Homo sapiens: one gene and its partners. The protein of the gene in region 4 purifies or fractionates together with the protein of the main gene of each other region. This does not show direct contact. Each region holds a gene or a part of one and is shown on either strand. Other genes may lie near its edges.

Region 1 (3,500 bases), on a different chromosome or scaffold from region 4:
CTACAATTGCAGGCCATGGCTGATAAACAAAACAAAACTTTGAACAACAAAAGAGGCCAGTAATTAGCCTCTATGGCACCCAGCATCCAGAAGGGAGCTGAATGCATCCAACCAGTGCCGTCCAGCTGATCAGCCTCTGAAATTTGTAAAGCACTGTGACACATACCTTATCTCTTTAATCTAACCACCTACTTGACAAAGTTGCTGGAATAGGGAAAAATGAAGTCCAAGGCAGTCAAACACTATCCAAAGTCATACAGCTAGTGCACCACAGACAGGGGCTAGAGCCCAGCTCTCTTGGCATTAAGCCCATTCTCTGCCCACTGTACCTCCTTGACATCACTTCTGGCCACTCCTCATCTTGGGCCCCATAATGAGGTTTATAACTGGATAACTAAGCACAGTATAGGGGGATGGTGGGAGTCGAGGGTGAGTCTCTCCTGTCTTCCTGCAGAACCATCTAAAACAGCCCCCAAGAAAGAAATGGTTACAAGAGCCTATGAAGAAACTTAAGCCCATCTCTACAAAAAATAAAACATTAGCCAAGCATGGTGGCACACGCCTATCGTCCTAGCTACTAAGGAGGCTGAGATGAGAGAATTGCTTGAGCCCAGGAGTTCAAGGCTGCAGAAAGCCACGATCATGCAGCTGCACTGCACTCCACACTGGATGACAGAACGAGACCCCGTCTCAAAAAAAAAGAAAGAAAGAAAGGAAGGAAGGAAGGGAGGAAAGAACTAAGTATCAGAAAACAGAAACTTGTATTAGAGATGAAAATGCCAACTACAAATCAGCATGGACAGAGTATTTAAATCATGGTCCAGCCAATGGCAGACTTTATTTAATACAATGTTCTGGCAATTGAAGACTTTAATCATTTCCTTACCTGGAATCAAAGAGGGTGCCATCCAGAAGCGTGCCATTGTAATGATACCTGAGAAAGTCCCCACTTTGACTTATCCGCTCACAGTTTTCAGGTACTACCTTGTTCTCAATGGAAATGCTGTCCTTGGGGTTATGGAGGTCCAATAATGCAACATCAAACACCAGAGATGCCTGACCGGGAATGTCTTTCCCTAGAATGGAATGGGAGAAGATGATTAAACGGGACACAGGATTTAGGAAGTACTTTACAACTCAACAGGCTTGGGGTTGGTGTTATTCATTTCTTGAGGTTTTGAAGCCAAGGAAACAAATGTTCTTCCAGGTCTTGAATGGGCCCCCATGGTGTCCAACCATGGGCTGATGGTATAATCTAAAACCTGACTCAGCAAAAGGAGAAAATTGGTATTAATGACATAAGAGACTACCATGACCATATTTTCTGGACTCATGCTGGAAAATCAAGGCTTTATGTAGGTGGGCAGGCACCCACAGGCAAACCCAAATACATACCTCTGTGGGTTTCTGTTTGTGAATAAATGCAAACCACAGACATTTAAAGGAGAAAATTCCAAATCTCTGGTCTGGTTCTGGAGAACTGTACACAGACTTGTTCTTTGAAACGAACGGCCAATTTTTTAGAGGCAAAAAGTAAAACTCAATGCTTTAAGTATATCCAAAGCAAGATATAAATAAGATGAAAGCAGAATAACAGAGAAAAAAATGGCACCCACAATCCAAAATATAAATAAATAGTCCTCAAATCACTTCTATCTCACTTCTGGGTAGTACTGCTTCTCTTGGATGTTCCTGCCAGTGGGAATATTTTGAATATCTGCAAAATGAAATCCACATGAAGAGATTACAGGACACTAGTTCTTCCTGCAAAGATCAACATCAACCAATAAATAACTCAAAATCCAGTAATTTGGGATAGTAGAAAGTTAACCAACAAACCAATCCCTCAGTTTTACCTGCCATTTGTTATATCATGCAAAGGAGTAGGCCCAGACAAGCAAACCAGATGCCGCCAAGCCTGAGCTCCTTCCACTGGCCTTTGGCAAAGCCCACCCTGCATCTCCTTCCCATCCAAGGAATGATGAAATCTGCTGAAAGCCGGCTGCTGAGTCAGCCCCTGGAATGCAAGGTGTGGTCAATCCCTAAATCGCATGCGTGGGAGATAGAATATTAATCTTTTGTGCCTTACTGTATCTTTTCATTTAAGAGAAAAATGAAAGCCTTAAAAGTAACCATGGGGTTTAAATTTTTCTTTTCTTTTTTTTTTTCTTGAGACGGAGTCTCGCTCTGTTGCCCAGGCTGGAGTGTAATAGCTCAATCTTGGCTCACTGCAACCTTCGCCTCCTGGGTTCAAGCGATTCTCCTGCCTCAGCTTCCCGAGTAGCTGGGATTACAGGCACCTGCCACCACGCCTGGCTAAATTTTGTATTTTTAGTAGAGACGGGGTTTCCCCATGCTGGCCAGGCTGGTCTTGAACTCCCGACCTCAGGCGATCCACCCAAATCAGCCTCCCAAAGTGCTGGGATTACAGGCGGCAGCCACTGCGCCCGGCCTGGGGTTTCAATTTTTCTAGCATTAATGTGTACTAAATGAATAATGTTTTCTATAGCAACTTTGCAGAGATATAATTCACATACCATACAGTTCACCCATTTAAAGTTATACTTGGATAGCCGAGCACAGTATTCAAGTATAAAGTATTCAAAAATAACTACTCTAAATAAGCTATTATTTATTTAAAGTAAAGAAATAATATTTCTCATATTAGGCTCACATCTGGTTTTGTTATGTGGCTGATGACAAAAGGATCTGGGAGCCAACGTGAATGAACTTCTTGGGGCCAAGGACAAGACCATTTGAACATCAATAAGAAAACAGTAACTGCCAGGCACAGTGGCTCCCACCCGTAATCCCAGCGCTTTGGGAGGCTGAGGTGGGAGGATCGCTTGAGTCCAGGATTTCCAGGTAAGCCTGGGTAACGTAGCGAGACACTGTCTCTAAAAAAACTTTTTTAACTAGCCAAGCATGGTGGCACACGTCTGTACTCCTAACTATTCGGAAGGCTGAGGCAGGAGGATCACCCAGGAGTTTGAGGTTACAGTGAGCTATGATGGTGTCACTCCAGTCTGGGTGACAGAGTGAGACCCTGTCTCTAAAAATAATAATAACAGTATCTTATATCTCAGTGGGGGGGAGAATTAAGACATATTTATGGCACTGCTTTAAACTTTATTTTTCTTTTAGTAGGGAATTCCACCCCTAATGCTCTGTTTAAGAAACCATCTGCAGATCCCCAGCATGTAAAATATATAAAAGTGGGCCAGGCACAGTGGTTCACACCTGTAATCCCAGCACTTTGGGAGGCCGAGGTGGATGGATGGCTTGACCTCAGCAGTTTGAGACAAGTCTGGCCAACATGGCGAAATGCTGTCTCTACTAAAAATACAAAAATCTGCCAGGCATGGTTGCATACGCCTGTAGTCCAAGCTACCCAGGAGGCTGAGGCAGGAGAATCTCTTGAATCCAGGAGATAGAGGTTGCAGTGAGCCGAGATCGCACCACTGCACTCCAGCCTGGGCAACAGAGTGAGACTCTGTCTC
Region 2 (3,422 bases), on a different chromosome or scaffold from region 4:
TCCTATTAGTAAAAAGAAAAAAAAAGTGCTGCCTAGGTTACATAATTTCCTCTCCAACACAGATATATCTAAAGCAATATGAAAAAGATAACAGAGAAGAAAAAGAATAAGAGATACGACATAAGTCAAAAGCAGATTTTGTCTTTTTGCGAGGTTAGATTTATATGTTACTGAGCTAAATGGTTAACCTAGACCTTTTCGTATCTGTTGTTCCCATTAAACAAACTTGCTAAAAAATGAGAACTTCATCTAAACACTAAGTTATCTTTACATATTTAGGTGTTATATTTCACACAAAAAATACTCTAAGGATAAGTTTCTTATGTGAAGACAAAGCATTGAATTACCAAATATTTCAAATTTTGCCTAACTACTTAAGTTTTTGTGCATGCTTATAACACATTGTCTTAGAGAACTGAAATATTTTTGGGAAAATTTGTTTTATTTAACATGACTATTTATTTGTTCAGTAAGTGTGGCCTGAAAGATTCTGTATGATATATACAAACTGGATCTAATTTAGAAGATAATCATTCCCTGATGAATTTTTTTAAGTTTAACATTTGTTATATAAGATTTTCTTACAGAGGAGTATTAATCGTAAAAATTCTCTCATCCCTATAGTTTTACAAGACAGCAAAAGATTGGTGGCTATTCAGTTTCTATTTCTGCTTGCCATTGGCCATCACTGCATTTTTTTATACACTAATGACCTGTGAAATGTTGAGAAAGAAAAGTGGCATGCAGATTGCTTTAAATGATCACCTAAAGCAGGTAAGAAAATACAAATATTTGATAACTCGTGGTTGAATTTATAATTATGAATATGAAAATTATGATGATGATGATGATAAACTAACATTATTATATACCAGAGCATATTTCCTTTTTCTTGTTTCTGGTAGTTTTAAATAGATAAAGAATATTTTTATATTATTTATTTGGAGATATTCTATATAATCTAAAAGGATCTAGGGAGAATCAGAACTTTTTAAAGATGAATCTCTAGTCACTTCGGTTCCACTTCACATTAACTATTCCATATAAAGCTCAGTGTCCTGAGTTTTTACATATGCCACTGACTTTTTGTAGACAATATTAAATGTCGTTTTAGAAGATAGAATGCTATGAGTAAAATGAGCCATCTTTTAAGGGTCAAACTATGGATTTATTTCAGAGACGGGAAGTGGCCAAAACCGTCTTTTGCCTGGTCCTTGTCTTTGCCCTCTGCTGGCTTCCCCTTCACCTCAGCAGGATTCTGAAGCTCACTCTTTATAATCAGAATGATCCCAATAGATGTGAACTTTTGAGGTAAGAAAGGCAAACTAGAAATGGTTTTGTAAATAAATGCCACTCAGAAGTGTTTCCATCGATCTTTTTTATAGGCAGAAAGACAGACTACCATTTTTCTAACCCTTAGGAAGTCATGGAGACTCCCAATTTTTATCTGAGGTCCTGTTGAGAGGGACAGGGAAGGGGGGGTATGAAGAACACTGGGTACAGAGAGTCAGAGTTGTCAAGATGATGAGTGAGTGCCAAGGCGGAAAATGTCAGGTCCGATTCTCCAACGCGTTTTCTAAATTTCTTCTTTTCAGCCAGCTTCAGTACTTCCAAATGAGATTTTATTTTAAAAGAGAAGAATTGGGCCTGGGAAGGGGAAATGGAGGAAAGTCAGTAGAAATGCTAGAGTTAGAGGGGGACACAGACAGAGACAGGCAGAGAATCATTGTTAGCAAAGACGAGTGATAAATTTAGAACCATTGTATATTGGCATTTTTTTTCCTTACAAAAGCACAGAAGCTACAATGACTACATGTTCAGAATAGCATATTTTTCAGACACATTTTGGGTTATTTTGTTGCAGCTTTCTGTTGGTATTGGACTATATTGGTATCAACATGGCTTCACTGAATTCCTGCATTAACCCAATTGCTCTGTATTTGGTGAGCAAAAGATTCAAAAACTGCTTTAAGGTAAGAGACTATCCCAAAATAAAAAGCTCTTTGTAATATGGCTCAAATATAAGCTTTCAAAACTGCTAATATATCTATCCAGACAGATTTAGTAAATTATCTTATAGTTTCCCTTTTATTACATCATGGATGATTTTTTTAAATACAACTTTTGCTTGTAAATCACTATAATTGTTTTTTCCTATAAATCCTAGTCAGCCACTCCCTACTGCCTCAGCCAATCAGTTACACTCATGGAATTGTTGACCAAAAAGTAATAAAAATTACATGCATTGATGTCTGATAGGCATCACATAATAAAATAAGGGCTAAACATGAATTAAAGGCCCTGTTCCCTGTTTTTGGTAGATTCTGAACTTCGCAGCTGCAATTATTATTATAACTAAATTAGTTCCTTTTTCACATGGACTGTGAGAATAGCAAGGTAAACAAAAAAAAAATAGTTTAGGTTTTACCTCTTTCTTCCTTTTTTGTATAACAGTGATGTGCTGTTCAATGTGAAATACATATAATTCCTTCTTCAGCTGCTTGCATTTTATCATCCTTCTATTCATTCACTCCTTCAACAATCTAACATGAAATAAAATATCCCCTCCCCTAATGTGAAAATCATCCATTTGTCCATGGTATTTCACTACTGGAAAGCTAAGAACGTAGCTCCCGCGTAAACACTAAGGCAGCCTATAACATTCTTCGCCCACTCATAACTCAAATTTTAGAGTTGGAAGAGAACTTCCATCAGGATCAACACCCTCATTTTATAAGACATAAAACAGTGGACTTCTCATTTTCTTTTACAAATAGAATGAACAGAAGACAAGCAGAATGAAAAAATTTTTATATTTAAAAAAACTTCAAGAAAAAAATTGAAGAAAACTGAGATGCTTTTGTACTATATAACCTTATTGTTTACCAATATTGAAAAGAGATATGAGAATACATGGCTGAAAAAATAGGAAAGCAGTATTAAATTCATTGACATGAGAAGATATTTATGTCACTGTCAAGTGAGAAAAAGCAGGTTAAATCTTCTCAGCAAAGTGGCTTAGAATAACTTGGGATGAGGTGTTTGTGAAAGTATCTACAAGGTTATGGAGTATACATACAGTACAGTCTCAGTAAAATAATTATACTCACATTCTCCAGCACATGCACATATACATGTGTATAATTTATTTATTTCATGTATGTGCAAATATTTCTGTTTTCATGGGGAAAAGTCTTGAATTATATGTTTATCAAATATTATCAAATAACCAAGAGTAAATATCAATTAAAAGTGGCTTTCTCTTGTTGAGAAATTTTAACTATGTAGGTTTTTTTCTTCTCTGCATTTTTTTAGTTAAAAAATTATCATATGCTACTACTGTGATTATATTCTTTTAAGAGGGAAAATAAAAGAGCACTGAAAGAAAGGGCCCAAGAACTCCTAATCATACAAAGAAAGTC
Region 3 (3,500 bases), on a different chromosome or scaffold from region 4:
TAGTGGACTAAGAACAATCTAAAGATTTCCAAAAGGGTCCATGTGCTTTTTTGTTAAACACAAACAAACATTAGAAATACAATGGAAAAGCTACCTATGCGACTATGGAGAGAAGGAAGCCGCTGCAGTGGTTGCTCTCTTGGCCTATTTTCATTCATTCTCTCTTAGACCCAATCAACATCTACTGATTCTACTAGGCCTCTTGCTTGGCTTTATCCAGGGCAAAGAGATGACTAGAACTCTTCATGGAGCTTAAAACCAAATACAGAACATCAGACATGCCAATAAATAGTTATACATTAAGACAGCCTGAGATGAAAGGATATCACAGCATAACTGGGTGGTCAGAATAGGAAGTAAACACTTCTGACTAGGTAATTGTAGAAGCTTAATGAAGCCAAAGACTGAGGGGGTGGATTATTGAGGATGGGCACGATTTTAATAAGAGAGATGGAGTAGGTATTCCACAGGTAGGAAGTGCACACACAAAAGTGAGAAATAGGCCCAGTGTAGTGACTCATGCCTGTAATCCCAACCCTTTGGGAGGCAAAGGCAGGAGCAGTGCTTGAGCCCAGGAGTTCAAGACCAGCCTGGGCATGATGGCAAAACCCTGTCTCTACAAAAAATACAAAAATTATCTAGGCATGGTGGCATGCACCTATAGTCCCAGCTACTCAAGGAGGCTGAGATGGGAGGACTCCTTGAGCCTGGGGAGTCGAGGCTGCAGTAAGCCATGATCATACCACTGCACTCCAGCCTGGGTGACAGAGTAAGACCTCATCTCAAAAAAAAAATTTTTTTTTAATTAAATTATTTTAAAAGTGAGAAATAAAGAGTAGTTACGTGTTTCCTGCATTTTTCCTATATCCACTTGAGGTCAGCAATTAGCCATCAACAGGTAAAATGACCAATCTTCAAAGAGTGGTGAACTTCTAAAAATGTGGAGGTTCCACCTGATAAGCGCACCACACGTAAATGCCTACATATTTCAGTAACTTCAGACTTCTTATACCTAGCAAATAAATGTCATTGAATTGGCCAATTTCCTGCCCCAGGTTTCCTGATATGACTTCTGAGCTGGTGTCTGGAGGCCCAGGACCTCTCTGTTCCACGCCTTCCTTGCAGCAGCACCTACATTGCCACTGGTTCAAATTCTTTGAATCGGTTACTAAAATAAATTAACTACTTCAAGCTTGTATTGCAAATACCCATTCCAACTGTATGCTAAAAGGAGGCTGCACTTGAGAATAATTACACATTTTCTAAACTATTCCTTCAACCACGTGTTTTTTTTCCCCCTGCATTCCTAACTCACCAGGCTGTTGAAGGTTAATTGCAATGATGCATGCAAAAGTGTCTGTCTGGCACCTGTTACCTGGAATGCTGATGTCTGGGTCCAAGCTGCAGCTGGCCATCTGGAGCTTCATACGGCTCTTCTACCTCATACACATTTGCATCAGCGTCCTCCATGCTGCTGGAATTCTGCCATTCCAACTCTTGAGTTTTCCGTATAGCCATAATAAATGGCAAGTTCTCGTACTCTGGTATTTCCTCATAATGGCGTATATTTTCATACTCCGGTGCACAGAGGCTTGTAACAGACTTGTAAGGTGCCTGAGATGATGACTCCCGGGAGAGCATTTGGTCATCCAAAGACTCAGCTCTCAGACCATTAGCTGCACTGGTCTGGCCCCGAGACTTCTTCCTCTTCTTTTGAGATTCCAGGCTATAGTTTTCTGTGGAATATGCCTTGATGGGTTTACTTCTCTTCTCCTCTCCTACCAACAAGCCTTGCCAATCACTTTCAATCCCCTTCTGCTCCCCACTGGAGAGGTGGCCTGTGGTGGTGTCTCCGAGTTGGCTACTCTTGGACCAAAATTTTTGAAAGTCACTCTTCATGAAACAGATGGACAGTTTCATGCTGAGCAACTTTTTAAAAGAGTTTTTCTTTGTAGAGTCTTTGCAAGGCTTAGTGCACTTTTCCACATCCATAGCAGATAACGATTTTGCTCTGGGCTTGGTTAGGGCTGTTGAAGGCTCACTGTTTGACGATACGGTGACAGACTTTAAGAATTCTGGGTTCCCTGAAAAGGGTAAAATAGGATGAGGTAACTTCCACACTGGCTTTTCTGAAGCCCGTTTAGGCATATCAAAGGAGGATGACACACCACGGTTTTGGGCACACAAATGCTGAAGGTGATTTCTTTCTAGACTCTTCTCTGAACTTTTTTCTTCACTTGAAGGATAAGAACTTTTTTCCAAAAGCTCCTCGGAGGCAGCCTTTTTAAGCACTCCTGTAGCAGGCAAGCTATGTCTTTGAGGTTTTTTGGGGACAATTCGTAGAGAATTTTCCTCTTTTATAACAGATTCCTTTTGCATTTGAGGGGCAGAAACTCCCAGGTTTCTCCCAGATTGCAAATGTTCATTGCAAGTTAATTTGAGCTGCTTAGGCAGGCTCATAGATACAGTACATCTTATAAAACCGGTCCCTTCGTCCACAGCAAGCGACATACTAGAACCATCTACAGTTGTGCTGTCAGAACTCAAATTAGAGTCTTTATCAAAAGAAGGTGCCATTTTTTCAAAGGAAGTTGTTTCATTACACATGGCTTTCTGTGAATTGACTAAGTCCTGTGCATCACTGTTGGATTCCATATTCAATTCACTTTTATTTCCTAGCTTCATTTTATCCACCTGTTCCTGCTTACACAAAACATTCTGATGCAGAACACTGATTTTATTGATTTTCAAACTATTTTCAGTAAGACAGGAAGAGCTACTGTCTGAATTCCCCGGTTCTTCAGTGCTTTCACTAGGAGTATCTACACACTTTTGGCGTAACAGACGAGCAGTTCGTGTCTTTCTGGGCTTGGGAGTTGGAAATTTTGGGGTATATGGTACTAAATGAATTTCTAAGGGACCAAGGTCTTTGACTTCTGATTTCTTACTAACTCCATCTGAAGATATTAAAGTACTCCTTTTCCCATTTTCCAGAGCCTCTAGTTCAGATGACTGAAAGCAATTATTGCTTTTTTCACTGTCATCCTGGCAAGTTTCAAAATGTTCACATTCATCACTAGGAAGCTGTAAGTGGCAACTGTGATGATCAGGAACTTTTTCAAAGCTGGATGGGGAAGGTGACAAATCCGCAAATTCAATTCTGAATTGTCCATTTGAATTACAGCCACCATTCATTTCTGGGCTGTCTGTGGGCCTGTGCTTCTGTGCAGAAATAAAAGGTGGCATTTGGTGTATTAAGGCATCTTTGAGCTCCTCTTCTAAAACGCTTGCCTTTAAAACAACCCCACCCTGGTTCTTGGCTTTTTCACCATACAAATCACATTTACTCCTAGTTTTTATAGTCAAAGTCTCATCAATTTTACTGTTTTCTAAATTTTCATTCATTTCCAGGGGCTCTAAAACAAGCTGCTTTACACACAAATTCTCTCTATGGCCCAGCTTATGGATACACTCAGAACTGCAGGAACACATTGGTGAAA
Region 4 (3,500 bases):
TCGGAGGCCTCCTCTGAGGACCTGGTGCCACCCCTGGAGGCTGGGGCAGCCCCATATAGGGAGGAGGAAGAGGCGGCGAAGAAGAAGAAGGAGAAGAAGAAGAAGTCCAAAGGCCTGGCCAATGTGTTCTGCGTCTTCACCAAAGGGAAGAAGAAGAAGGGTCAGCCCAGCTCAGCGGAGCCCGAGGACGCAGCCGGGTCCAGGCAGGGGCTGGATGGCCCGCCCCCCACAGGTGCTCTAGGACCCTGGGTTAGAGCTAGTCTGGGGCCTGGACGGGGTTGGCGCTCATCCGCGTGAGTGAGCCACTTGCACAGTGGGCCGGCAAGTGGGGCTGGAAGGCGCGTCTGTCTCCCTGCTTTCACCTGTGCCGCAATCTGGGGGGCTGGGAGGCCTTCAGCCTAGTCAGGGACACCGACATCACCCTTTAGGGTGTTGGCCGCCGGCCCTGTGCGCGTCTAGGGGAGGACGGTCCCGCTTGGCGCTGGCCGCCCCGCCCGGTGGGCGGTGGGCTGGGGCCGGGGCTGACGCGGCTTTCCCGGCGCAGTGGAGGAGCTGAAGGCGGCGCTGGAGCGCGGGCAGCTGGAGGCGGCGCGGCCGCTGCTGGCGCTGGAGCGGGAGCTGGCGGCGGCGGCGGCGGCGGGCGGTGTGAGCGAGGAGGAGCTGGTGCGGCGCCAGAGCAAGGTGGAGGCGCTGTACGAGCTGCTGCGCGACCAGGTGCTGGGCGTGCTGCGGCGGCCGCTGGAGGCGCCGCCCGAGCGGCTGCGCCAGGCGCTGGCCGTGGTGGCGGAGCAGGAGCGCGAGGACCGCCAGGCGGCGGCGGCGGGGCCGGGGACCTCGGGGCTGGCGGCCACGCGCCCGCGGCGCTGGCTGCAGCTGTGGCGGCGCGGCGTGGCGGAGGCGGCCGAGGAGCGCATGGGCCAGCGGCCGGCCGCGGGCGCCGAGGTCCCCGAGAGCGTCTTTCTGCACTTGGGCCGCACCATGAAGGAGGACCTGGAGGCCGTGGTGGAGCGGCTGAAGCCGCTGTTCCCCGCCGAGTTCGGCGTCGTGGCGGCCTACGCCGAGAGCTACCACCAGCACTTCGCGGCCCACCTGGCCGCCGTGGCGCAGTTCGAGCTGTGCGAGCGCGACACCTACATGCTGCTGCTCTGGGTGCAGAACCTCTACCCCAAGTGAGCAGACCAGGGGCTGGGCCCGGGCCGGCAGGGAGGGTGTCCTCTGTAGGAGGGGTGTCGAGGGGTGTCGAGGTGTGCCGCCGGCAGCTTTTAGTGAGGTCGGTGTTTGCAGAGTTTTGGGTCCGAGAATGCAGGGGTGGGACTTGGACTCCCTGGGGCAGAGCCTGGACAGGCAGAGACTGGGCCTGGACACAGGGATAAGGCTGGGGCTGGGTCTGCGTTGCTCTTGGAATCCTTAATTTCCTGGGCCTCAGTCACATTCTGCTGTTGGGGAAACTGAGGCACAGAAAATGGTAGGGATTTCATTCACGAGCGCCCAGTCTGAGGAGGGGGCAAAGCAATCAATAACCATCCAGAGCTGGAAGGGCTGTGGCAGCAGAGGCCAGGCCCCGTGCAGAGCATGGGCCCAAAGCAGGCCTGGAGAAGTCAGGGAAGCCAGCCTGGAGGAGGTGAAAGCCAGCGGTCCTTCTCTGAGCCAGGGAATCAGGCCAGGAGGCAGGAGGAGGGGTGATAGGGCAGGTAGGGGAGAAGGTGAGAGGAAGGTCGGTGCTCCTGAGCATGTCCTCTTCCAGGGCACTCTGGAGCTGAGCAGAGCTATGCGGGCACCCCCAGGCAGGAGAGTTCCAAGTGATGGGCTAGGGCCACGTGTCTTGTTAGACCCCCATTGTGTAGGGTTACCCTGTGAGCCCGCCGCAGAGCTGGAGCCCCTCAGGTGGGAGGCTGGCTGTGCAGCTGGTACCCCTGCTGAGTACAGCCTCAGGCGTCCCTTGACTCCATAGATCCCTGGGCGTGCCCGTCATTCGCACGGTCTGCATGGAGAGAGGCTTACTGCAGTGTGGAAAGGCCCAGGGCGGGGGAGTCCAGGGGCTGTTATTGTGGGGCTTGGCCACTGCTGGCCCCAGATCCTAGTGTGAAACTTTAGGAAGGAAGCCTGGAGGTATAGACAGTGTGGGCAGTGTCTGCCGTCTCGGGGGCCTTGGGTGGCCTGTGGGCTCAGTTCGTGTTGAAGGGTCAGCCTCTGGCAGAAGGATAGAGAAAGGGTCCAGTGGAGAGGGTGGGAGAGGAGTCAGCAGGGCATAGGGGAACTGGCACAGGGCAGGGGCCACGGGAGAGATAACCCAGCCCAGAGCCAGTTCCCGCTTGCTCGTCCTGACTCACCAGGAAATGCCGGGCACCTGCACCCCTGCCTGCCAGTCTTTCTGTCCCAGTGACCTCGGGGTCTGCTGGCCTGGGGTTAGCAACAGGCAACTAAAGCCAAGCTGGGCATGGAGCCCTGGTGAGAGGGTGCCCAGGGGGGCATCGTTGAAGCCTGTGTGCCAGAAATGTGGGGAACGGAGGGACACAGCTGCATCTGGATTGGGTGAGGGGCAGAGAGAAGGTCATTTGTAAACCTCTAGGCAGACAAAGGGCCCTTAGGAAGTGCCAGGGCTGGGCAGTCCCCTGGGAGCTCTGGGGCGCTGCAGAGGCGCCAGGACAGTGAGCCAAGATGCGTCTGTGGAGCAGTTTGGGGCAGCCCTTCCTGCCCATTCTGGCCTACCCCTGGGATTGGGAGGTGGCCGGGGCTGGTGAGATGCCCAAGACCTGCAGGGCTGGAGCGCAGTGGGCTGGGAGCTGGCTGGATTCCAGGGCTGCTGTGAGTAGGAGCAGGGTTTTATCTGGGTGACAGGTAGTCTTGGAGCAGGAAGAAGATCAGATCTTAAAGGTGGCTCTGGCTGCTGGGTGAAGAAGGAATTGTTGGAGGTGAGGGAAGGAGCAGAGAGGCCGGGAGGAGGCTTTTGCAGTGAGCCAGCGGGGAGCTGATGGGAGCCGGCCAGGGCGCCAGAGTGGCATGAGGCTGCTGATTTTGGGGGCTATTTTGGAGCAGGACCTAATGGGGGGGGGGTGGTGAGAGAGTCAGAGGAGGCATGATGACTTCAGAGTTTCTGTTCCAAACCAAACTAAGTAGATGGAGGACCCATCATCTGAAATGGGGACCGGGTGGGGGTGCGGGAGGGTGTGCTGGGCAGTCTGGGCCTGCCAGAGACCAAGGCTGAGGGCCTGGGCTCTAGCTTGAGTGGTGGTGCTGATTTGGTATAGTTGTCCTCATGCCAGCCTCCCCTGCCTGCAGTGACATCATCAACAGCCCCAAGCTGGTGGGTGAGCTGCAGGGTATGGGGCTCGGGAGCCTCCTGCCCCCCAGGCAGATCCGACTGCTGGAGGCCACATTCCTGTCCAGTGAGGCGGTGAGTCTCCACCTGGGCCAGGGAGGGGCAGGGAGGCAGCAGAGGAGAGGCTCGGAGACAGACAGGACATGGGCAGGGAGCTTGACGGGTCTTCCAGGTGAGCGAG
Region 5 (3,500 bases), on a different chromosome or scaffold from region 4:
ATAATCCCCTGTATTTTATTTTATACATTTGAAATCATTAATCTGAGAAGGGGTTCATAGGCCTCGCCAGATTGCCAAGGAGGGCTCGTGGGTGAGAGATTTCCTGATGGTTGCTTCAATTTTGGGTTCGACTAATGAAGCTTGTGCTTTAAAATCAAACTACATTTTAAGGATTCAATGATAGCAGATCACACTGTGAGCAGATATATTTAGTAGGGTATTAGTTTGCTAGGACTGCTGTAACGAAGTGCTAAAAACTGAGTGGCTTAAAACAACAAAAATGTATGATCTCACAGTTCCAGAGGCTAGAAATCCAAAATCAAGATATGGGCAGGGCCATGCTCCCTCTGAAACCAGTTTCCCTCCTTTCCTCTTCCAAGTGCATACTGGTTTGTTGGCAATCTTTGTCATTCCTTCTCTTGTAGGTGCATTCATTACTCCAATCCTCCATCTGCGCATGGCATTCTCTCTTTTGTCTCTTTATATCATCTTCCCTCTGTGCATGTCTGTGTCCTTGTCCAAATTTCCCCATTTTATAAGAACATCGGTTGTACTGGATTATGCCCCAAAATAATGACCTCAGCTTGGTTAAATCTGCAGAGACCCTATTTCCAAATAAGCTCACATTCTGAGGTACTGGTGGTTAGCACTTCAATATATTATCTTTTAGGGGTCATAATTTGATCCATAACAAGTGGATTCAAGTATCTATAAATTATCAATAATATCAGAGTTATGCTTAGTGTTCTAATATACAACTGAATAATATATATTAAAGAATACATTAAAGTATAAATTAGATGGTGAATATTGAAGCCATAAGAATAATCAATTATCATATCCAAGGATTTTAGAAACATGGATTTCTTACTGGTTTTTGTTTCTAAAAGTTAGTAGGTAATGGGAAAATGGCAGCTCTTAACAGAAATTTTCTTTAATTATAACTTAAGGCAAGTACTTTACAAAGAGATATGAGCATTCATTGGCCTACGTACTCTCTGATTATTAGAAATCCCCGATAAGCTAAATTAAAGTTTCCAAGGCTAATATTCTGTGGTGTGTGAGTGTAGTGAGCCCTGGGGCGGGCTCACTACAATATAAATATGTATTTATAGAAACTTCCCAATTGATCTAATTGTCAGACAAGTGTAAGCGTGAGAATTACTGGTCTATATTTTGCAAAAAAATCTATATTTATGACATAGAAAAATTTACATGGGAAAAATTACACATTGAATAGGGATAAGTGTTTTTGAAAACTGCCAAATTATATTTAAAATTAGAAACTTTAGGCTGGGCACAGTGGCTCACGCCTGTAATCCCAGCACTTTGGGAGGCCAAGGTGGGCGGATCACCTGAGGTCAGGAGTTTGAGACCAGCCTGGCCAGCATGGTGAAACCCCATCTCGACTAAAAATACAAAAAATTAGCTGGGTGTGGTGGCACATGCCTGTAGTCCCAGCTACTCAGGAGGCTGAGGCAGGAGAATCGCTTGAACCTGGAAGGCGGAGGTTGCAGTGAGCCGAGATTGTGCCACTGCACTCCAGCCTGGGTGACAGAGGGAGACTCTGTCAAAAAAAAGAAGGAAGGAAGGAGGGAAGAAAGGAAGGGAGGGAGGGAGGAAGGAAGAAAGGAAGGAAGGAACTTTAACTGAAAGCATAAAGGACTTTTAGATCTATTTGAGCAATTTTTAATCACAGCTTTTTTCCCTTGTCTTTCACTCTGACACAGATTTCAATAGCTTTGACAACAATTTATAAACATATAGTCTACATATGATGAGAAACTATCTTCTCAGTTTTGTTTTTTATTAAGTTTTTGTCATATGCAAAGCTTGGTGATTAGAGTGAAGAAGCTGGAACAACAGAATTCCTACCGTGGTCGATAGTGAGATGAGAAATGTCCATAAGAAAAGAAACCAGACACATGACCCCTATTTAGTGAATCCCTGCTTGATGCTAGGCAATGTGCTAAACACTGGAGAACTATAAAAAAGCCAGACATGTTCTGCCCTCATGGTGCTTACAGTCTAATGAATGGTATAACAAGTAAATGGCTAACTTCCAAATGGGTAACGATAAGAAGAGTAATAATAGAGAAACGTAGTACCATGGAGCCTATAGAAGGAGCAACTATCTCAGCACTGGGTATCCCAGCTGGTATCTGAGAATAATTATAAATTAGTGAGATGATATGAAGAGAAATAGATTCTAGGTAGAGAGAAGAGCATCTAAAAGGCCTGAAAATGATAGTTCATGGTTCTGCAGAGGAACCTAAACATTCATTGTTGCTTGAACTTAGAAAGTGAGGCAGAAGAATGTATAGGAAGATAGGCCTTCAAGCCAACAGAAGCCCAGAAAAGCTACTTGCCAAGGAAGTGTTTTCAGGGAGGTATTCACATCACTAAGTAAATGAAAAGATGGGCTTTGGGTGAGATGGTCAGGAAAGAGTCAAGAAAGAAGAGATAGGATTTGAGTGATTAAGTATAATTGCGCCCAGTTAAAAAGAGAGGCAACAGGCATTGAGGACTTGGTAAGCTGAGATCAAAGCCAGGCAGAAAAGCCCAGAGACCATGGGGTACCTGGGAGGGAGAAGCAGCCTGACTGCCACAGGGAGATTGGTTTGGGAGCCAAAGGGGTGGGAAGGCATTTTGGTTGTCACAGTGCCTGAGGATGCCCCTGGTATTTAGTTCCCAAGGTCCAGGGATGCTAAGACTCTACATTCTGCAGAACCTTCAAGAATTGGGCACGTGTGAAGAATTTTTCTATCCAAAATGCTTATAGCACCCACATTGAGAAACAGTGATAGGCAAAGTAAGAGGTTCTAAGTAGGGATTTATTTTACTTGTCTGGACCCTCTTTTTGAAAGGCAAATATCTCTTGGGTTGATTACGCCTTGATACATTCGTCCACTCAACAAATATTGAGCACCTACTCTGTGCCAAGCACTGTTCCAGGTCTCACCTCGAAATCACACCTGACTGTGGATTATTTTCATCAGTCAAGGAGTTTCCATCTGGCTGACTGGGGAATGTTTTGGATGGAGATGAGAGGAGATGAGACCGTTCAGATTTCCCTCGGTCTAAAACACCTCCATCCCACCACTCTTTCAAGCCCCCTACAATGCAAACAAAAACATTAAACAATGTTTGATACCCACTGCCTCAATTTAATGATCCAGTCTCCTTAGACCCCAAAAGTGCTAATTGAGAAACTGGGCAAGGGTCCTAGCTCAGTCATCATCTTCTTTTAAAACCATTAATCATATCATTTCTTGTTTCAGTTATCGCCTTCCTTTGCTTTCTCAGTATTCTGGGGTTCCTTTCACTTACAGGAACCTGCAGTGCTTCTCACCCCTTTTTATCTGGCCTAGCACGATGGGCAGACGGCAGAGGGGGGGACACAGTACATATATTACTAGGAGACATCAAGTAGGGGTGGGAGACAATGGCAGTGGCCAAGAGGGTGCTGCCCTTAGGACAGTGTGCATGTGGATGTTGAG
Region 6 (3,500 bases), on a different chromosome or scaffold from region 4:
TGGCGGGTGCCTGTAATCCCAGCTACAAGGGAGGCTGAGGCAGGAGAATCACTTGAACCTGGGAGGCAGAGGTTGCAGTGAACTGGGATTGCACCACTGCACTCCAGCCTGGGTGACAGAGCGAGACTCCGTCTCAAAAAAACAAAAATTAATGATATGTTGTTCACAAAAGACACACTTAAAATCTATCAGCAAGTTTGAAAATAATGGGATGGAGAGAAAGTTATACTCTGTGCTGTAGACTGAATGTCTGTTTCTGTTCCAGATTCATATTTGAAATCCTAATCCCCAATGTGATGCTATTAGTGTGTAGGGCCTTTGGGGCATAATTAGGTCATGAAGGTAGAACCTTCAGGAATGGGGTTAGTGCCCTTGCAGAAGAGGCCCCAGTGAGCTCCCTCACCTTTTTTTTTTACCATGAAGGGATAAAGATACACTTTCACTGTGTCACACAGTGAAAAGGCAGCAGTCTATGAGACAGAAGGTGGGCCTTCCCCAGGCACTGAATCTGCCCACACCTTGACCTAGGACTTCCCAGCCTTCAGGACTGTGAGTAATGGGTTTCCATTGTTTATAAGCTACCCAGTCTATGGGATTTTATTATAGCAGCCCAAATGGACTAAGACACTGTACAAATTTAAGCCCAAGGAAGACTGGAGGTAGCAATGTTAATATCATTAAAAGTGGAATTTCAGCTAAACGGCACTAATAAGGCTAAAGAAAGATAGCACATTTTAAATGTAGGGGTTTTTCCGCCCTCCCTTCTCTCTTTCCCTTTATGCTCATTTGTCTCTGGCTAGAGATTTGCCAGTTGGCTTCACCTAGCTTTGGAACAGCATTGCGGGCTCCTGCTCCCTGGGGAAAGACTGCATCCTTAACACCCCCTGGAAACCTGCCTTCCACTCCCAGCTTATCCCAATGTTTGTGCTCATATTTCACTGGTCACTACTATGTGTTTGCAGCAGAGGAAGCAAGAAAAGATGTAACCAGTTGCCCTCCTCTGCACTCTCTGTCACACTCATCACCTTCCTAAACAAATGTTCCCAAATGACCTTCGGCTGTTCCTCCCTTCCTCAATTGCTCTCTCATTTCATCCCTCTCACAAAATCCACCATCAAATCCACTTCCCTAGCGCCGCCACTGAGAACATTTCAAAGAATATCTTTTAAGCTCTGAAGTCAAGTTTCAAAGGCAGACTCAGGCAAGGTAGCATTGTTAGAATAAATGGGTGGTCAGTCATTTGGATGTAGGAGTCTATGTGTGAGGGTCTAAACACAAATTGAGGCTGGGCGCAGGGGCTCATGCCTGTAATCCCAACACTTTGGGAGGCTGAGGCTGGTGGGTTGCTTGAGCAAATAATAAAAATTTAAAAAATAAAACGGGGCTGGGTGCAGTGGCTCACGCCTCTAATCTCAGCACTTTGGGAGGCCACATGGGTGGATCACCTGAGGTCAGGAGTTTGAGACCAGCCTGGCCAACATGATGAAACCCCGTCTCTACTAAATATACAAAAATTCGCTGGGCGTGGTGGCGGGTGCCTGCAATCCCAGCTACTTGGGGGGCTGAGGGAGGAGAATCTCTTGAATCCTGGAGGCGGAGGTTGCAATGAGCTGTGATTGCACCACTGCACTCCAGCCTGGGTGACAGGGCGAGACTCCATCTCAAAAAAAAAAAAAAAGCAATGGGATGTGCACACACACAACTAAACAAATTGCATCACTTTATAATCACGTCTAAGATATCCGAGGAGGGAAAAGAAGAGGATTCTACGTCCTATTGCAATATCAAGGGAAACGGAGGCACCTGGAAATGCCTCTCTACCTGGAATTCTTGCCAGAAAGGGTCCACATTTCTTGCCTCTCACCCCATCTATGTGATGCAGCTCCAGCTCCGGGCAGAGGGAGACCTTCTGGGAGCTGCTGGGGGTGTTTGTGTCTGAGCAGCGGGAGCTGGTCTGCACCTCACTCAGCCCTTGTTCTCCATGAATCCTTGACAGGAGATGAATCCAAGGCTCACCTGTAAGATCCAGACAGGACAAATCTCCAGTCCGAGATGATGAACTTCTCCCGGATTTGGCCAGCGAATTTCCTGCCTGACTTGGCACAGTATATCTCTCCTTCCACACTCCGGATGGAAATGTTCTGTTGGAGGGAAAGTCAAGGTGTCACTTCCTAATTCTGTTTATAGAGATACATTTGGGCTTTAGGCTGGATGTTTATGTTCCCTTTACCCCCATTCTGTGTTGAAACCTAATCCCCAGGGTGACGGTACTAGAAGGTGGGGCCTTTGGGAGGAGATTAGGTCATGAAGATGGAGTGCTCATGAATGGGAGGAGTGCCTTATAAAGGAGGCCTAGAGATCTGCCTCACTCCTTCTGCCATGTGAGGACACAGCAAGAAGACAGCCATTTATAAGCCAGGAAGTGGGCTTCACCAGACGCCGAATCTGCCAGAACGTTGATCTTGGAGTTCCCAGCCTCTAGAACCATGAGGAATAAATTTCTGTTGTTATGAACCACCAGTCTATGGACTTCTGTTATAGCAGCTGTGATGGACTAAGACAATTTGTGCATGAAAATGTCTGGTAGAATGTTCATCAAGATGGAAATGTGTTATCTCTGGTTGGTGGGATTCTGGACCATATTAATATTTTCCCTGGGCTGAATTGTCTAAATTGTCTTCACTGTCCTGGCATCAGCTGGCAACAAAAAAAAAGGAAGGTGGTAGAATTCAAATAAGGCAGCAAATAAAAGAAAAGCAAGGGCCTAATGCCTATGGAGCCCCGAGTCTAGGCCCCCATGAGCCACAGGTGGCCTGGCAGTTACTTGGAGGCAAGCCCAGCCCTGCCTTGTAAGTGGCTTGACCTGAGTCCCTGACCCTAAGCTGTTCAGAGGGAAGGCTCGGTGCAGCCAGAGGAGGTGGTTTTGTGGAGGTAGCAATAGACCCTGTATTGTCTTAAGCAAAGGTGAGTCTGCAACCCTACCATGGCTCTATTTATCCCTTGTCTTCCCTGTAGCACCTGCTGCTCCCGCCGTACAGCTGGAAGGCTGGAGAAATGGAAGAGTGGGTAAAGTGTGGGAGTCTCAGGGTTAAGGCTGAGGGAGGTGGAATACTGTCTGGATTCCTCAAAAGACTGCTGGTGGCTTGGCAGGTCCTGGGAAGGGCAGTCCTGCCTCCAGCCGCTTCCCCTGGGCTTCTCCATAGCTCTGTGAGATCTTGAGAGGAGGGACACCATTGTCCTATGGTGAGCAGAGTACTGTCAGGTGTGGCCAGCATAGGCCATGAAAGCAAGGCCAGTTCTGACACTTCTGACCTGTTTCAATGGCCTCGTGCCAAGGAGGTATGATCTACGTCATGCCAAACAGACCAGCAGCCAGAGGTCCCAAGGCCTGTGGCAGCAGGAGGCAGCACTGAACTCAGCTGCATCTGTGCAGAGGGGAAGGGAGGGAGGGAGGAGGCTTCATTCTTATCTGGGAGGTTCTCCCAGAGGACAGAACCTCT
Region 7 (3,500 bases), on a different chromosome or scaffold from region 4:
AACTGTGTCTGATATTTTTTAAATGCTTAAAAAATAATATTGGTGATTTGCACTATAATTGTTTCTGAAAAAAATTTATATTCTCAGAAACTTTCAAATTATTGTAGAATATATATGCCTAGCTTAAAAGAAAAATTAAAGTAGTCCGTCAGGATTTTTCATGGTTCAGAATTAAGGCACTCTTTCTTTGAAAAAAGTCCTCAGACGATTCTATTAATGACTGAAGAAAACAGTTGGAGAGAGAACTCTAGGAAGAGGAGCCATGTGCATTTCCAGTATGTGAATTGGCAGCGATAATTCTGAGGAAAAGCAAAGTTTATAAATTTGGAAACTCCTCCTAGAAAGCTACACAAATGTCTTGCTTTAGAGGTCAAAACATGAGAGTCAAATTTATAAACCATCCAATTTAGGTGGGAATTATTCATGCCACACAAGATTCGGAAGCCAGAGATTTTCTGCTTGAATCACTATTTTGGGAAATCCGTTTAGATGGGCATCTTTTCAGCAAGCAAGCTAAAAATTAGCTTAAAGTGTTCAACACTTTCTTTTCTTACCTTCAGAACAAGAAAATAGTAAGAATCTCCTGCAGCTATATGAATTGCCTGCTTGAATCATCTGTCTGTGAACTTAGAAATATTCTCCAGCATTGTGTCCTTTTCCTATATCAGTAGACACTCCTTATCTTTTATAGCCTGAAAACCCTGGAATATGATGACATGTGGAACAAACTTCTTAAGTCAATACAACCTAGCTGTAAATGCTGTTACCAATAATTCTTTCAGATTCACCTCACCCATGCCTGGCCTTCTGCTTGTGACTTAAGCTTACTTTTTGTGTGTTAAAAGCATTGTATTGCTTAGAGAAACAGCCATTAACTTGGTGGTTAAAAAAAAACCCAACTACTAAGAACTTGAATGAGAAATGAAATGTAGTCATAGAATACTATTTGGTTCAGCTGTGAGCAGTATTTACATTATCATGTTAATAATGTAAGCTGTGAATATTGATTTTCCATATTGGGAGAAGCATGAGTGTAGTGAGGGAGTTGTAGAAGGCATCTTCCTGTTAGAAAGTAGATAGCAAAAGCTAAAATGTAAGAAACAGCTGCAAGAGTAGGAAACGGGTGGGAGGGTTGAGGCAGTGAACTACTGATTTTTGTTATAAACTTTAAAAACTATATATTTATGTTGTTTTGGTAAAATAGAAGAAGTAACAAATGCTCAAAGATCTAAAAACTTAGATCTTTTCATCATAGATTTCTTGGGACAGCTACTGTGCTCTTAAATGTTTCTCTTTAGCTTCTGTATTTAAATTTGTTCTAATTAGAATAATATGGGTGTATCTTTTGCCCTTTGGGCCCAACAGATTGCTTAGAGCATTATATGTAAAATGGCCCATATTTTTTGATGTAGGTTGAATTATCTGAAATTTAATACAGGCTCCAGCTGAGTTTATTAACTGCAGGTTACTGGAGAAACAACAACAACCAACCCTGACTTTCCTCTGTTTATTATTAAAAACATTCTTTTGAATACATCTAATTTCTTCCCCTCATCCCTGCAGATAAAGTTATTGTTATCCCTCAAAAACTTTGGCAGCTAGTGATTTATCAAATAGCATAATGAAGTCCGTACTAGATCCTGAAAATCTGATTTTATTAGTAGTCAGTATCTCAAACAACTACTCATAAATAAATAACTACTCATAAATAAAGTCAGTTTCTTGTGTTTTTCTCTTGCAGTCATTGTTAAGTGTGATGGTATGTCCAGGAGAGGGTGTGTGTTTTATGAGAGCAGTGGGGTTGATGTATTTGTCAAATGGGCCTTTTCTTTTGTTGTATAGCCAGCTTAGGAAACATGAAGGAGAGAGATTTTTGGAAAGATCTTACTGGTGTGTTGGTACCGCTGGAAGGAACAAAGGGATAGCATGCATGTGCTGTCATTTAGCTTTGTCTCTAACTAGACCCACCCAGTTTATTAGCCAGTCCAGAAAGTCCCAATTTGAAATTTCCAAATAATAACTATTGTTGGGCCGGGCGCGGTGGCTCACACCTGTAATCCCAGCACTTTGGGAGGCCAAGGCGGGTGGATCATGAGGTCAGGAGATCGAGACCATCCTGGCTAACACTGTGAAACCCCGTCTCTACTAAAAATACAAAAAATTAGCCGGGCATGGTGGCGGGCACCTGTAGTCCCAGCTACTCGGGAGGCTGAGGCAAGAGAATGGTGTGAACCTGGGAGGTGGAGCTTGCAGTGAGCCAAGATTGCATGGCTGTACTCCAGCCTGGGCGACAGAGCAAGACTCTGTCTCGGGGAAGAAAAAACAAAACAAAACAAAAAAACTATCGTTATAGCCCACATTGAACGTTCTTATGTTTCAAGTACTTCTTAAAGAGCTTTTAGGTATTACTTCATTTAATCTTCCCCACAGTGCTATGAAATACGTATGTGTAAGATAAAGATACTTTTTTTTTTTTTTTTTTGGAGACAGGGTCTTACTCTGTCACCCAGGCTGGGGTACAGGGGCATAGTCTCAGCTCACAGCCACCTCCATTCCCCGGGTTCAAGTGATCCTCCTGCCTCAGCCTCCCAAGTAGCTGGGATTACAGGCGCACACCACCACGCCCAGCTAATTTTTGTAATTTTAGTAGAGACAGGGTTCCACCATGTTGGCCAAGCTAGTCTCAAACTCCTGACCTCGGCCTCCCAAAGTGCTGGGATTACAGGCATGAGCCACCGTGCCTGGCAAAGATAACTTTTTTTTTAGGGAAGGTTAATTGACACAACTTTTCCTAAAGACAATTTGGAACCATGTATCAAAAATCTTAAATTCATACCTTTTCACCTAGCAAAATTTATGTCCTTATTGATCCTATAGAAACAGAAAAAGATTCAAAGATGAAGACAAATGTTATTGCAGTATTGCCAATAGTGTTAGGATAACTTAATATCCTACTGTAGGAGACTGCTTAGACTGTGGACAGCAAAATAATCGAATATTATTATGCACTCATGGAAAATAAAGATGCTGAACTAAGTGCCTTAGGATAACTCTGTGTGTGTGTGCGCGCGCGTGCGTGTGTCCATCCAGAGTTGTACACACAGGCAGGTTCTCATCCCAGATATCCTCAGTTTTACTAACTTATGTCTCCCTCCCTCCCTCCCTCCCTCCCTCCCTCCCTCCCTCCCTCCCTCCCTCCCTTCCTCCCTTCCTTCCCTTCTTTTTCTTCCTTCCCCGCTTCCTCCTTTCTTTTCTTTCATTGTTTTTGGAGACAAGGTGTCATTCTGTTGCCTGGGCTGATGTGTGATGATGCAATCTTATCTTACTGTAGCCTCAGACTCCTAGGCCCAAGCAATCCTTCTCCCTCAGCCTCCCAAGTAGCTGGGAATACAGGTGCATGGCACCATGCCTGGCTGATTTTAAAATTTTTTGTAGAGATGGGTCTTGCTTTGTTGTGCAGGCCCATCTTGAACTCTTGGGTTCAGACAATCCTCCCACTC

The links.
Region 1: the proteins of TNFAIP2 (region 4) and FKBP9 purify together in Homo sapiens (affinity purification with mass spectrometry, with the first as the bait; one large-scale study listed by BioGRID). This does not show direct contact.
Region 2: the proteins of TNFAIP2 (region 4) and EDNRB purify together in Homo sapiens (affinity purification with mass spectrometry, with the first as the bait; one large-scale study listed by BioGRID). This does not show direct contact.
Region 3: the proteins of TNFAIP2 (region 4) and FGD6 purify together in Homo sapiens (affinity purification with mass spectrometry, with the first as the bait; one large-scale study listed by BioGRID). This does not show direct contact.
Region 5: the proteins of TNFAIP2 (region 4) and DSG2 purify together in Homo sapiens (affinity purification with mass spectrometry, with the first as the bait; one large-scale study listed by BioGRID). This does not show direct contact.
Region 6: the proteins of TNFAIP2 (region 4) and FAM83A purify together in Homo sapiens (affinity purification with mass spectrometry, with the first as the bait; one large-scale study listed by BioGRID). This does not show direct contact.
Region 7: the proteins of TNFAIP2 (region 4) and ENAH purify together in Homo sapiens (affinity purification with mass spectrometry, with the first as the bait; one large-scale study listed by BioGRID). This does not show direct contact.

Annotation. Positions count from the first base shown.
Region 1 is NC_000007.14:32,977,940-32,981,439, reverse strand, and holds part of FKBP9 (peptidyl-prolyl cis-trans isomerase FKBP9 isoform 1 precursor), read right to left. Parts: intron 1,984-3,500; exon of another isoform or gene 1,864-1,983; coding exon of another isoform or gene 1,857-1,863; intron 1,077-1,856; coding exon 887-1,076; intron 1-886. UniProt on the Homo sapiens protein: PPIases accelerate the folding of proteins during protein synthesis.
Region 2 is NC_000013.11:77,898,410-77,901,831, reverse strand, and holds part of EDNRB (endothelin receptor type B isoform 1 precursor), read left to right. Parts: intron 1-624; coding exon 625-774; intron 775-1,177; coding exon 1,178-1,311; intron 1,312-1,864; coding exon 1,865-1,973; intron 1,974-3,422. UniProt on the Homo sapiens protein: Non-specific receptor for endothelin 1, 2, and 3. Mediates its action by association with G proteins that activate a phosphatidylinositol-calcium second messenger system.
Region 3 is NC_000012.12:95,207,468-95,210,967, forward strand, and holds part of FGD6 (FYVE, RhoGEF and PH domain-containing protein 6), read right to left. Parts: coding exon 1,376-3,500; intron 1-1,375. UniProt on the Homo sapiens protein: May activate CDC42, a member of the Ras-like family of Rho- and Rac proteins, by exchanging bound GDP for free GTP. May play a role in regulating the actin cytoskeleton and cell shape.
Region 4 is NC_000014.9:103,126,461-103,129,960, forward strand, and holds part of TNFAIP2 (tumor necrosis factor alpha-induced protein 2), read left to right. Parts: coding exon 1-232; intron 233-544; coding exon 545-1,169; intron 1,170-3,279; coding exon 3,280-3,394; intron 3,395-3,500. UniProt on the Homo sapiens protein: May play a role as a mediator of inflammation and angiogenesis.
Region 5 is NC_000018.10:31,501,177-31,504,676, forward strand, and holds part of DSG2 (desmoglein-2 preproprotein), read left to right. Parts: intron 1-3,500.
Region 6 is NC_000008.11:123,192,665-123,196,164, reverse strand, and holds part of FAM83A (protein FAM83A), read right to left. Parts: intron 2,142-3,500; coding exon 2,017-2,141; intron 1-2,016. UniProt on the Homo sapiens protein: Involved in mitochondrial maintenance during adipogenesis. May be acting by playing a role in the maintenance of normal mitochondrial function.
Region 7 is NC_000001.11:225,520,624-225,524,123, reverse strand, and holds part of ENAH (protein enabled homolog), read left to right. Parts: intron 1-3,500. UniProt on the Homo sapiens protein: Ena/VASP proteins are actin-associated proteins involved in a range of processes dependent on cytoskeleton remodeling and cell polarity such as axon guidance and lamellipodial and filopodial dynamics in migrating cells.